Homo sapiens: one gene and its partners. The protein of the gene in region 3 purifies or fractionates together with the protein of the main gene of each other region. This does not show direct contact. Each region holds a gene or a part of one and is shown on either strand. Other genes may lie near its edges.

Region 1 (3,650 bases), on a different chromosome or scaffold from region 3:
TCCCCAGTGGCTAGAACTATAGGTGCATGCCACCATACCCAGGTAATTTTTTTTTTTTTTTTTTTAAGTAGAGACAGGGAGACAGGGTCTTACTAAGCTGCCAAACTCCTGGGTAATGCAATCCTCCCGCCTTGGCCTCCCAAAATGCTGGGATTATAGGCGTGAGCCACCACACTCAGTCAGATCTCTTCTGAGTCTGTAACCTTACATTTTTCTGCCACTGCCTCCCCACCTCCTTTCTCTCCACTTCAATCCAATTTCTACACTTTTAACAAGTGAGCATTCCCCTCCTGCTTGGGACCCTCCTGTGGTTCCAGCGCCCTCCAGATGAAGGCCAGGCTCCTTAGGCTCAACTCCCAAAGCCCTAGACAACTTGGCCTCTGACACACTCCCATTTGTTCTGTAAACCTGAGCCACACTGGCCACTGTGTGGTTCCTGTGGACACCCACTGAACACCCAAAGCACACGCCTGCCCTCGTGAACTCTGGCTCACTGCCCTTCCTTCAGATACGTCTCATTCAGGTCTCTGCCTAACTGTCACCTCCTCAGAGAGTCTTGCCCTGACCACCCTTTCTAAGAGGTCGGCCCATCACTTCTCAGCCCTTTGTACTGCTTGATTTTTCTCAACAGCACCTGACAGGTGTTCCCCTGTGCCTAGACCAGTGCCTGGCACACAGTACAGGCTCAAAAACATGGACGGAGTGGAAATTGATTCCAGACATGAAGAAAACAGCGCAAGGAAAGGGACAGAACCTGAAGGAGACGGGTATGGGGTTATTTTAGATAGAGTGGTTGATGGCCTCACTGGGAATGTGACATTTCAGCAAAGATTGAGCACCTGGATCTGGGGAAGATGGCTTTGTTAGTGCACAGGCCTCAGGCTGAAGAGCTCTGCAGTCTTGGGGTATTGGGATGTAGCTAGGGGTGAGGCAGACAGCAGCAGGCAATGGGGGGCCGGGGCCAGGTCAGGTGGGCCTTACAGAGCTGGTAAGTGGCTTGGACATTAGGCTGACAGTAACAGGAGGCTCAGAGAGAGTATGGAGGAGGGGACTGACACCACTGATGTCCTTTTTTTTTTTTTTTTTTTTTCCTGAGACAGAGTTTCCCTCTGTTGCCCAGGCTAGAGTGCAGTGACATGATCATAGCTCACTGCAGCCTCAAACTCCTGGACTCAAGCAGTCCTCCCACCTCAGCCTCCTGAGTAGCTGGGCCTACAGAGTGTGCCACTATGCCCCAAGTCTTTTGTTTTCTGGTTTTTTCATTTGTTTGGTTTTTGGTGAGGTTTTTTTTTGTTTGTTTGTTTTTGAGACAGAGTCTCGCTGTTGTTGCTTGGGCTGGAGTAGAATGGCACAATCTTGGCTCACTGCAACCTCCACCTCCGGGGTTCCAGCAATTCTCCTGCTTCAGCCTCCCGAGTAGCTGGGATTACAGGCACCCGCCACCATGCCTAGCTAATTTTTGTATTTTTAGTAGAGACGGGGTTTTACCACGTTGGCCAGGCTGGTCTCGAACTCCTGACCTCAGGTGATCCACCTGCCTCGGCCTCCCAAAGTGCTGGGATTACAGGCATGAGCCACCACGCCCAGCCTTGGTTTTTTCAGAGACAGGATTTCACCATTGCTCAGGCTGGTCTTGAACTCCTGGGCTCAATCCTCCCTCCTCTGCCTCCCAAAGTGCTGGGATTACAGGGGTGAGCCACCACGCCCGGCTGCTGATGTCCATTTTTTAATATGCATGTTGCCTGCTCTACAGAGAAGACTGGAGGGGAGTGGGAAGAGGGAGATGAGTACTGCTCAGGCCACGCCAGCCATGAGCATCATTTGGATAAGCAAGAGGGGCCATGAGCGCTGTGAGTCCAGATGGAAAAGGCAGAAGAGGCACAATCTGCAGACCAGTTAGTTGTGGGACATGAGGGGAAGAAGGGAAGGAAGAACCCTGGGATCTGAGCAGCTGGCCGAAGAGTATGTGATTTGCTGAGTCAACGAAAACCTGGGGAAGGACTGTTTTGAGGTCAAACCAAGAGCTCTGTTTTGGCTATAAGTCTGAGCTGCCTGTTAGACATTCCAGTGGAGGTTCCGAAATGGTCAGTGGGTATTGTAAGAACCAAAGAAAGAGGAGAGAGGAGAGAAACACGAAGGGTGGCTCGACAGTCAACAGGTTTATTTCAAACCTGGGAGGGACTTCCGACCGAGTTAGGTCAGAGCCACACTCTCCTACAGACTAAGAGTTTTTAAGGATTCAGGGTGGGAGAGTTTATCAAAGGCTTGAACTGTTTCTGTGTCTCTCTGTTGTGCTTATCTGGGAGGGAGAGTTGTGTGTCTGTTCCTATACAACTTTCTGCAGCTGCAGGCATACCCCCCAAGTCTGCTTTTAGCTTCCCTTAGTGCACCTGAAGGGAACAGAATGTCCTTATTAAGGCCCACTGTTATACTGAGGCCCATTGTAAGAGGGTGAAGTTTGGCCGTTACCCAGGAAACAAACCTGTTGACTGTCAAGTCACCCTTCGTGTTTCTCTCCTCTTTCTTTAATTCTTACAGATATATGAGCCTGGAGTTTAAGGGAGAAGCAGGAACGGCATTCAGAGGGATAGCAGAGAATATGGGTGCTGAGCAAAGACACAGATTTAGTGATTAGAAGTGAAACAGGCTGGGTGCAGTGGCTCACACCTGTAATCTTGGCACTTTGGGACACCAAGGCAGGCAGATCACTTGAGCTCATGAGTTCGAGACCAGCCTGGGCAACGTGGTGAAACCTCATCTCTACAGAAATACAAAAATTAGCTGGGTGTGGTGGTGTGTGCCTGTAATCCCAGCTACTGGGGAGGATGAGACAGGAGGATCACTTGAACCAGGAAGGTCAAGGCTGTAGTGAGCCGGGATCACGCCATGGCACTCCAGCCTAGGTGACAAAGTAAGACCCTGTCTCAAAAAAAAAAAAAAAAAAAAAGTGAAACAAGAAACAAGATCAGCTGGGCACGGTGGCTCACGCCTGTAATCCCAGCACTTTGGGAGGCCAAGGCAGGCAGATCGCCTGATGCTGGGAGTTCAAGACCAGCCTGACCAGCATGGTAAAACCCCATCTCTACTAAAAATACAAAAATTAGCCGGGTGTGGTGGCAGGCACCTGTAATCCCAGCTACTCTGGAAGCTGAGGCAGGAGAATCGCTTGAACCCAGGAAGTGGAGGTTGCAATGAGCCGAGATCGTGCCATTGCACTCCATCCTGGGCAACAGAGTGAGACTCTGTCAAAAAAAAAAAAAAAAGAAAGAAAGAAAAAAGGTCATCGGCTGCAAGTAAGAAGCATGGTGACAGTTCGAAGAGAAGGGAGAGTGGGAACGGAAGGGAGGGTGGGAACCAAAGCGACTACAGCAACATGGCAGGGTTGCTGGTATTATAGTCCATTTAAGATCTCTGCACTTGAATCTAAAATGGAATCAGTCTGCACAGTTTTGCAGCTCTTCTCCAGGCACTTTCAGCTATCTGAGTTAGGTTAACCAATGTGAGAGGTTCTTCTAGAAGAGAGAGGAAAGGGAAAACAGTACAACCACGATGGGACACTGGAACTAATCAGGTTAAGAATGGGGGAGGGGAACACACATAAGGCGGCTGCAGAGCAGTGAGGAAGCAGTGGGGTCTGAGACCTGCTGAAG
Region 2 (3,650 bases), on a different chromosome or scaffold from region 3:
GCAAGAGTGGAAGCCTCTTTGCATAGCCCACATTAGCTCAGCACTCAGTACTCAGGCACACTTCTAGTTGCCAACAGTACAGGTTGCAAAAGGGAAATATAGACGTAACCAAAAATCAGACCTGCCAGGTATGGTCAAAGATCGAGAAAAAAGGACTCAAAATAAAAAATCAACTTAAGCAAATTAAAGACACTGAGCAGTGTTGGGAAGCATTCTTACAATTCTAAAGGCATCCTTGACATTTAATCTAATACCAAGAAAAGCCCAAAAAGTAGTTTATGAAGCAATGCTCAGATGTCTGCCCAGACTTGAGACTCGAGATTTCCCTTCCAAAAACCACCCATATGGACAGGTAAGGCGGCCAATTTTGCCTGACTCACTGCAGAATAGGAACTGTGACATTAACCTTGTACTACTTGGAAGCCATTTCATTTGCAAAGTTGTTGCCATCAGGGAAGAAAAGCATTTCAAATGGAAGGCAGTGACCCTGAAAGGGTCATCATCAATCACCTGAGGTCAAAGACCTTCCAAATTGTAAGAAGAGGCAGGGGATAAGGAAAAGAGGGCAGAGCAAAGATCAAAAGGCCTTTGATGGGGGCTACCTACCTACACAATAGGACCTGCAAAATGGAACTTCTCTGGAGTTTGAGACTTTCTGGCTTCTAAGGTGAGAGGTTTCAAGAAAGGTTTATCCTTTTTGTTTTTTTTAACTGGGGTAATTAATTTGAAGACTAGAGTCAGCAGATGGCAGAAGAGGCCCAGAGGCACAGGTTTCCATGTCTGCCAGTTTCACCGTCCACCTCAGCAGAGTACTAAATACTGTTTTCTTCATCTAGAGAGAGCATTAGTAGGGGAGAGGAGGGAAAACTCTGCCAGCTTTGCCGCTGCCAAATTATAAAGCAGCTGAGTTTGAACTGCCTTGTGATACTGTATTTTAACTGATGCAGAAACACTGTTTCCTTCTCGTAGAAGGCAATCCCCGAAAGAACAGTTGAGAAGTCTCCTTCGGCCAATGCCAGTGGAAAAGCAGTCAGGGTCTGTGGGATCCTTTCCATCAGTGATGACATACTCTCTGCTACTACTTCCATTGCTTAATGAACCTTAGATGGTTAAAGGAAAAGGTGGAGAAAGAAGGATTACCTGTTTCAGGCTGTCTCAGTGGGGGGAAACCTTGGCTAGAGGGGTGTGTGAATCAACTCCATTGGGTTGAGAGTCAGATGAAGAAAAGGGGCAACTTTAATTCAGGATGAAGCAGCAAAAGAGAGCTCTACTGAACCCTTCGTTATCTTTTTTGTGGTGTATTCCAGGAAAATCATGAATCCTGAGTAGGCTTTGTCCTGGTGGCAGAATACCTTTCCCTGTTAGCTGGAGAATAGAGTACTTCAAGGATGCAAACAATGTGAGCCTTTCAAAAATTCACGGAAGATGCTTATAAAAATAATTTATTATTTTAAGAAATAAAACATACAACAGAGCACTATAAATAATTTTCAGATTATGGGCTGTTTTGATTAGCCAAGCCCTAGATGCCTCCAGCCTACTCCCATTAGCATGGATAATTGAAAATCTGCTGTATTTCCATTTTAACGCAGTCTTGCTAATTCATGTCAGGCACTAAGATGAGAAACCAAACCTTTGAGTGTTATTTCACCTAACAGGTATTGAGCATGTGGCACTAACCTCTATACAGTCCAAAGAAGCCTTCATAGCGTAGCACTTTCTTAAAACAGTCAAAGCTGTTTTTATACATGAGTTCTCCCACAAAAGAGCCAGTTGATCGTTGGTTCTGCATTCGAGTTTTTACAAGATCGATAGGATACACAGCAGTGGCTCCAACAGCTAAAATTAAACAATATCATTATCTCAGAAGAAAGTAAGATAGGTCAGAAGAAAGAAGAAGGTAGTTAAAGTCAAGGACAAGACTGAGAAAAGAAATGTGTTTTGAATTTTAAATACAGATTTTAAAACAGTACTACCTTTCTTATATCTTTAATAAACAATTGAGGGTTTTCATTCAAGTATCCCCTAATAAAAGGATGTCATAGATATTTTAAATTAAGGCACATTGCTACAGCCCAACCTCATTAGTAACCTGTCTTTGGAAGGCCTGATCTGTAGATAGAGGAAAATGCCACTTGTAAGTCCCTGATCACATGCAGGTATGGGAAAAGAGTTCCCTTTACTCTTGCCCTACCTCACAGGTAGAAACTGATAACTGGCATTGGGAAAGACTAGAGAAGACTTTGTCCTTTAACATTTCAAGATGGAAAATCAGAGAAAAGAGAATAGGAATAACAAAAGTGAAAATTTTTCTCTCATCCATGACTAACCTCCAGCAACAGAACCCAGACCAAACCTGTAGGCCGACTCTGCAACTTGTAGAAGAACTGGTCGAGCTGAATCACCTGAGGCCTTCTGCTTTGCATGCACAGGAATCAGAGAGCAGGAAAACAGGTGACAGAAAAGAAGATAAAACAAAAATGACCATACATTAACTTTAAACATTACTCATTGGGTTCTAAATCCATGATACAACTAAAATGTCAAGGAAAAAAGTAGGAATGGATTTCATAAGTTCTTATTAATAAAAAGATTTTAGTGCTATTAATGTTTAAAACCAAATTTCAATATAATCAAAACCATCCTTTGACAAAAATGATGTTATAAGCCTATTTTCAAATTCTCATTAAAAAAAATGCACAGTTAAAAACATCACTGAGGCCAGGCACGGTGGCTCACGCCTGTAATCCCAGCACTTTGGGAGGCTGAGGCGGGCGGATTACCTGAGCACAGGAGTTCAAGACCAGCCTGGATAACATGGTGAAAGCCCATCTCTATAATATAACACAAAAATTAGACCAGCATGGTGGCATGTGCCTGTAGTCTCAGCTACTCAGGCTGAGGAGGGAGAATCACTTGAGCCCAGGGGGCAGAGGTTGCAGTGAGCTGAGATCACGCCACTGCACTTCAGCCTCGGCAACAGAGCAAGACTCTATCTCAAAAATAAAAATAGGTCGGGTACGGTGGCTCATGCCTGTAATCCCAGCACTTCAGGAGGCCGAGGTGGGTGGATCATGAGGTCAGGAGATTGAGACCATCCTGGCTAACATGGTGAAACCCCGTCTCTACTAAAAATACAAAAAAAAGAAAAAAATTAGCTGGGTGTGGTGGCAGGCGCCTGTAGTCCCAGCTACTTGGGAAGCTGAGGCAGGAGAATGGCGTGAACCCGTGAGGTGAAGCTTGCAGTGAGCCGAGATCGCGCCACTGCACTCCAGCCTGGGCAACAGAGTGAGACTGTATCAAAAAAATAAAATAAAATAAAGTAAATAAAGCAAATAAAAACATCAATGAGACATCATTTTTCATCAATCAAATTGGCAGGTTTTTGGTTTGTATGTATTTTTGTTTTTGTTTTAAGTGGCAATACCCAGCCTGGCAAAAGTTGATAACAAGCCTTCTGAAATTTGCCATTAAAGCAAGCATAAATAGAGAGATGTTTAGTAATATACACCCAAACCCTTAAAATGTACATAACCTCTGAAGTTAGAATAGGCTGGGTGCAGTGGCTCACACCTGTAATCCCAGCACTTTGGGAGGCCGAGGTGGGTGGATCACTTGAGGTCAGGAGTTCGAGACCAGCCTGACCACCA
Region 3 (3,650 bases):
GCTCAATTTTTTTTTTCTTTTTTTTTTGAGACAGAGTCTTGCTCTGTCACCCAGGCTGGAGTGCAGTGGCACAATCTCGGCTCACTGCACGCTCCACCTCCCAGGTTCAAGCAATTCTCCTGCCTCAGCCTCCCGAGTAGCTGAGATTACAGGCTTCCGCCACCACGCCCGGCTAATTTTTGTATTTTAGCAGAGACAGGGTTTCATCATGTTGGCCAGGGTGGTCTTAAACTCCTAACCTCAGGTGATCTGCCCACCTTGGCCTCCCAAAGTGCTGGGATTACAGGCATGAGCCACCGTGCCTGGCCCTCCAGTCATCTTAATATAATCCATAGTTTCTTCTTTTCTGGAATTTCTTTAAGGTCACTGAGGTCAAACTAGCTCAAAGAGACAGATACAGTAAATGAAAAAAACAACCCTGATATTTGGTTATATATTCACTCAACCAAGCATTAACTGAATACCTACAATGTGCAAGGTACTGTGAGAAGAACTACTGGGATACAAAGGTAGTTCAAGGCTGCCCTCAGAGCTTACAATCTAAAAACTGTAATACCAGGTGGGGAGTAACAAGTAATGTCTTGTGAAACTTTCAAGGTGAAAAAACGACATTAGGCTGGAGAAGTAGGCATCAAGCTAGTCTACATGGATAAAGCTGGTATCTAATCCGGGCTTTTTTTTTTTTTTTTTTGAGATAGGGTCTCACTCTGTTCCCAGGTTAGAATGCAGTGGTGGGACCATAGCTCTCTGCAGCCCTGACCTCCTGGAGTCAACCCATCCTCCCACCTCACCGCCCAAGTAGTTAGTTCTACAGGTCTGTGCCACCACACCTTGCTAATTTTATATTCCATTATGTTTTGTAGAAACACAGTCTTGCTACGTTGCCCAGTCTGATCTCGAACTCCTGGCCTAAAAGATCCTCCCGCCTCAGTCTCCCAAAGTGCTGGGATTAGAGGCATGAGCCATCATACTTGGCCTGATCTGGGCTTTGAAAGATGGGCAGACTGAGGACATAACCAAAGCAGGACAATTTCAAACCAACATGCAGGAAAATAAGGGACATTAATTTTATCTGCAGCCTAAGATTCATGAAGATACAGCCAATTACAGAGTAAAGGAAGAAACAAGAGGCTTTGACAGAGTCATTGTTGAGTCAAAGGAGTAGGGTAAAGAAAAGGACAGTTCTTAAGAGGAGATCTATGGTGTTCAGATTTTGCTGCTACATATTTATTCCTAGGCTACAGATATTCTGCAAAGACATCTGGTTGGTCCTCAAATAATCACATTTAATAATGTGGTCAATCAAAAGCAGCCTAAGCCAGGCACAGTGGCATATGCCTGTAATCCCAGCTACTTGGGAGGCTGAGGTAGAAGGATCACTTGAGCCCAGTATCTTAAGATCAGCCTGGACAGCATAGCAAGACCCCATCTCAAAAAAAAAAAAACAACACAGCCTTATCCTAAGACTCCAAAAAATGTCAGACTTCTAGCAACATTTAGCTAATTAAAAGTTATTTCTTCAAAACTACAAAAATCTATTACACTTCCCCACCATAAAGAACTTCCTTGTTCAGAAAACTTTATGAATTTAGGTAAAACAGTTAAAGCTTTACCTAACACCCAAAAAATCCATATATTAGAATTTTTATCTATTTTTGAAGTTTATCCCTTTAAGACACCAAAACATTAATTTAAATCTCAAAGTGGCTTTTTTATGTTGTTATTCTTTGCCTCCACTGAACCTCTCCCCTCCTCGGCTTTCCTGAAAGAATATTCCCCTAAGGTAGTCGCTATTCAAATATTTTTTAAAATTCCTTCTCAAAAGAAACCTTATTCGGAATGCCAACACATAACACTCAAAAGAGAGCTGCTCTGACTGAGGTAGACCTGTTTGTGTGATCTACTCCTCCAAAGCATCTCTGGGAACCCCCTGGGGCACCATGGAACACAGTTTGAAAACTACTGCTCCAAAACTTTCCCCTCCCTTATTTATGGCATGCTAGATAAGTACCACTAAAATTTGAAAAATTTCAACTTAGAACAAGTAAGAAGGACTTATTTCATTCTGCTTTTCAGAGGTAGTTTTACATACACCTGCAGTTCCCTCACTAAGAATGTAAGCCCTTTTGAGTATAGGCGCTACGATGGATCCCTCTGGCTCTTAGTCAAGGGCCCAGCACAATGCTTGCCACACAGCATGACTTTAACAGATAGCTGCTGAATTTAATCTAACTACATCACCCAGAAGATAATACACTTACAGAGCTTCCTGCTTAAAGTGGTTAGACGGAAACAGAAATTGATTTGTTAAAGGTTAATGAATAGCAGGACTACACAGAATACTCTCCATCTTTCAGGCTGACAACCACACTTATGTATCATACAGCCTTTGAGATTTCAGCTGGGAGAAAAACACCAGGCTGAAGGAGTGTAGCCTTGGATCCATGCAATCATTTCCACAAGTCTCTGCAGGATTTGGTTGCCATCTGCCATGAGGCCAGTCCAGGAGTTCTTTCATTCTGCTACACTAGCCTTGGTGTACTCATGAAATAACAACCAAAACACAAAGGACACATTAAAGGTAAGGATTCTGACGTGGGTAGTGCAGACCTTAAGCACTGGACCTAAAAGCTTTTTCATAAACTCACCCACACAGCTCACCGGGATGAAATCATTAGCTCTCCTGCCACATCACAATTATCCATACTTCCAACACTAGCACAAGTTAACTGGTAACTACCATGGCAGCAGCACAACTTACTTTCAGGAGAGCCTTCGCTTTCCAGTCGGAGTTTATTTAGGCGCTCTTCTTCCTAGAATTTAGACAAAAGTTTTCCAAGAACACAAGTTAGAATTCCCAGATGCTTGCAAAAGTCCATATGCTGGCTGAGTAATCTGACTCCCTCAAAGCCAACTCCTCCAGTTGGGGTCAGTGCATCATTGGGAGAATATTCTAGGTCATAGGGCCAAACGCCTGACTCCTGCTTACTAAGCAGCATTAGCATCACAGGTGCCCATCCATTGTTCACAAAATTAACCCAGTGAGCTGGCTTCCAAACTGACAAGTGACCTTGGAATCTTAAAGCTGGAAAGGACATCCAGAAGATCTGTCGCAGTCAGAGAAATAAAACAGAAGTTTAAGGCAGGAGGTAGACTGCTATTTTATTTTTCAAGACTTCTAGAATTTTAGTATAATTTTTCCAGAAGCTAAGATCATGTTTCCAACATCACTATGAACTCACGTTTAGCTTAACAGAGATACAGATGGATCCATACAGAAATATTTACAGGTGTATGTGTATGCATGGGTTACTATCCAAACATATATTTTCTTGTTCTGTCAGTGAAGAGAACTTAAAGGCAATGGCAACCTGGTAGCAATGAGCATACCCGGCACCCAGATCTTGGTTTCCAATGCTATTCCACAATAAGAACAGAGATGCTTGAAGAAATGGCTGTTCCAGGGCTGGAGCAGGAAACATACATGCAAGATAAGCCTGGAGCAGCTTATACTGCCAGAAAGTAAGGAAGTGCTCAAAAAAAAAAAAAAAAACAGTCCCATAATGATGGCGCTTTCTCAAAAAGATACAAAAGCCAAATGAAAGATGGGCAGGATGAGGACATAACCAAAGGCCAGTTAGTGCCAAAGC

The links.
Region 1: the proteins of HACD3 (region 3) and ARMC9 purify together in Homo sapiens (co-immunoprecipitation; one large-scale study listed by IntAct). This does not show direct contact.
Region 2: the proteins of HACD3 (region 3) and SLC25A13 fractionate together in Homo sapiens (co-fractionation; one large-scale study listed by BioGRID). This does not show direct contact.

Annotation. Positions count from the first base shown.
Region 1 is NC_000002.12:231,201,617-231,205,266, reverse strand, and holds part of ARMC9 (lisH domain-containing protein ARMC9), read right to left. Parts: intron 1-3,650. UniProt on the Homo sapiens protein: Involved in ciliogenesis. It is required for appropriate acetylation and polyglutamylation of ciliary microtubules, and regulation of cilium length. Acts as a positive regulator of hedgehog (Hh)signaling.
Region 2 is NC_000007.14:96,182,597-96,186,246, forward strand, and holds part of SLC25A13 (electrogenic aspartate/glutamate antiporter SLC25A13, mitochondrial), read right to left. Parts: intron 2,419-3,650; coding exon of another isoform or gene 2,416-2,418; coding exon 2,331-2,415; intron 1,840-2,330; coding exon 1,681-1,839; intron 1-1,680. UniProt on the Homo sapiens protein: Mitochondrial electrogenic aspartate/glutamate antiporter that favors efflux of aspartate and entry of glutamate and proton within the mitochondria as part of the malate-aspartate shuttle.
Region 3 is NC_000015.10:65,557,843-65,561,492, reverse strand, and holds part of HACD3 (very-long-chain (3R)-3-hydroxyacyl-CoA dehydratase 3), read right to left. Parts: intron 2,814-3,650; coding exon 2,762-2,813; intron 1-2,761. UniProt on the Homo sapiens protein: Catalyzes the third of the four reactions of the long-chain fatty acids elongation cycle. This endoplasmic reticulum-bound enzymatic process, allows the addition of two carbons to the chain of long- and very long-chain fatty acids/VLCFAs per cycle.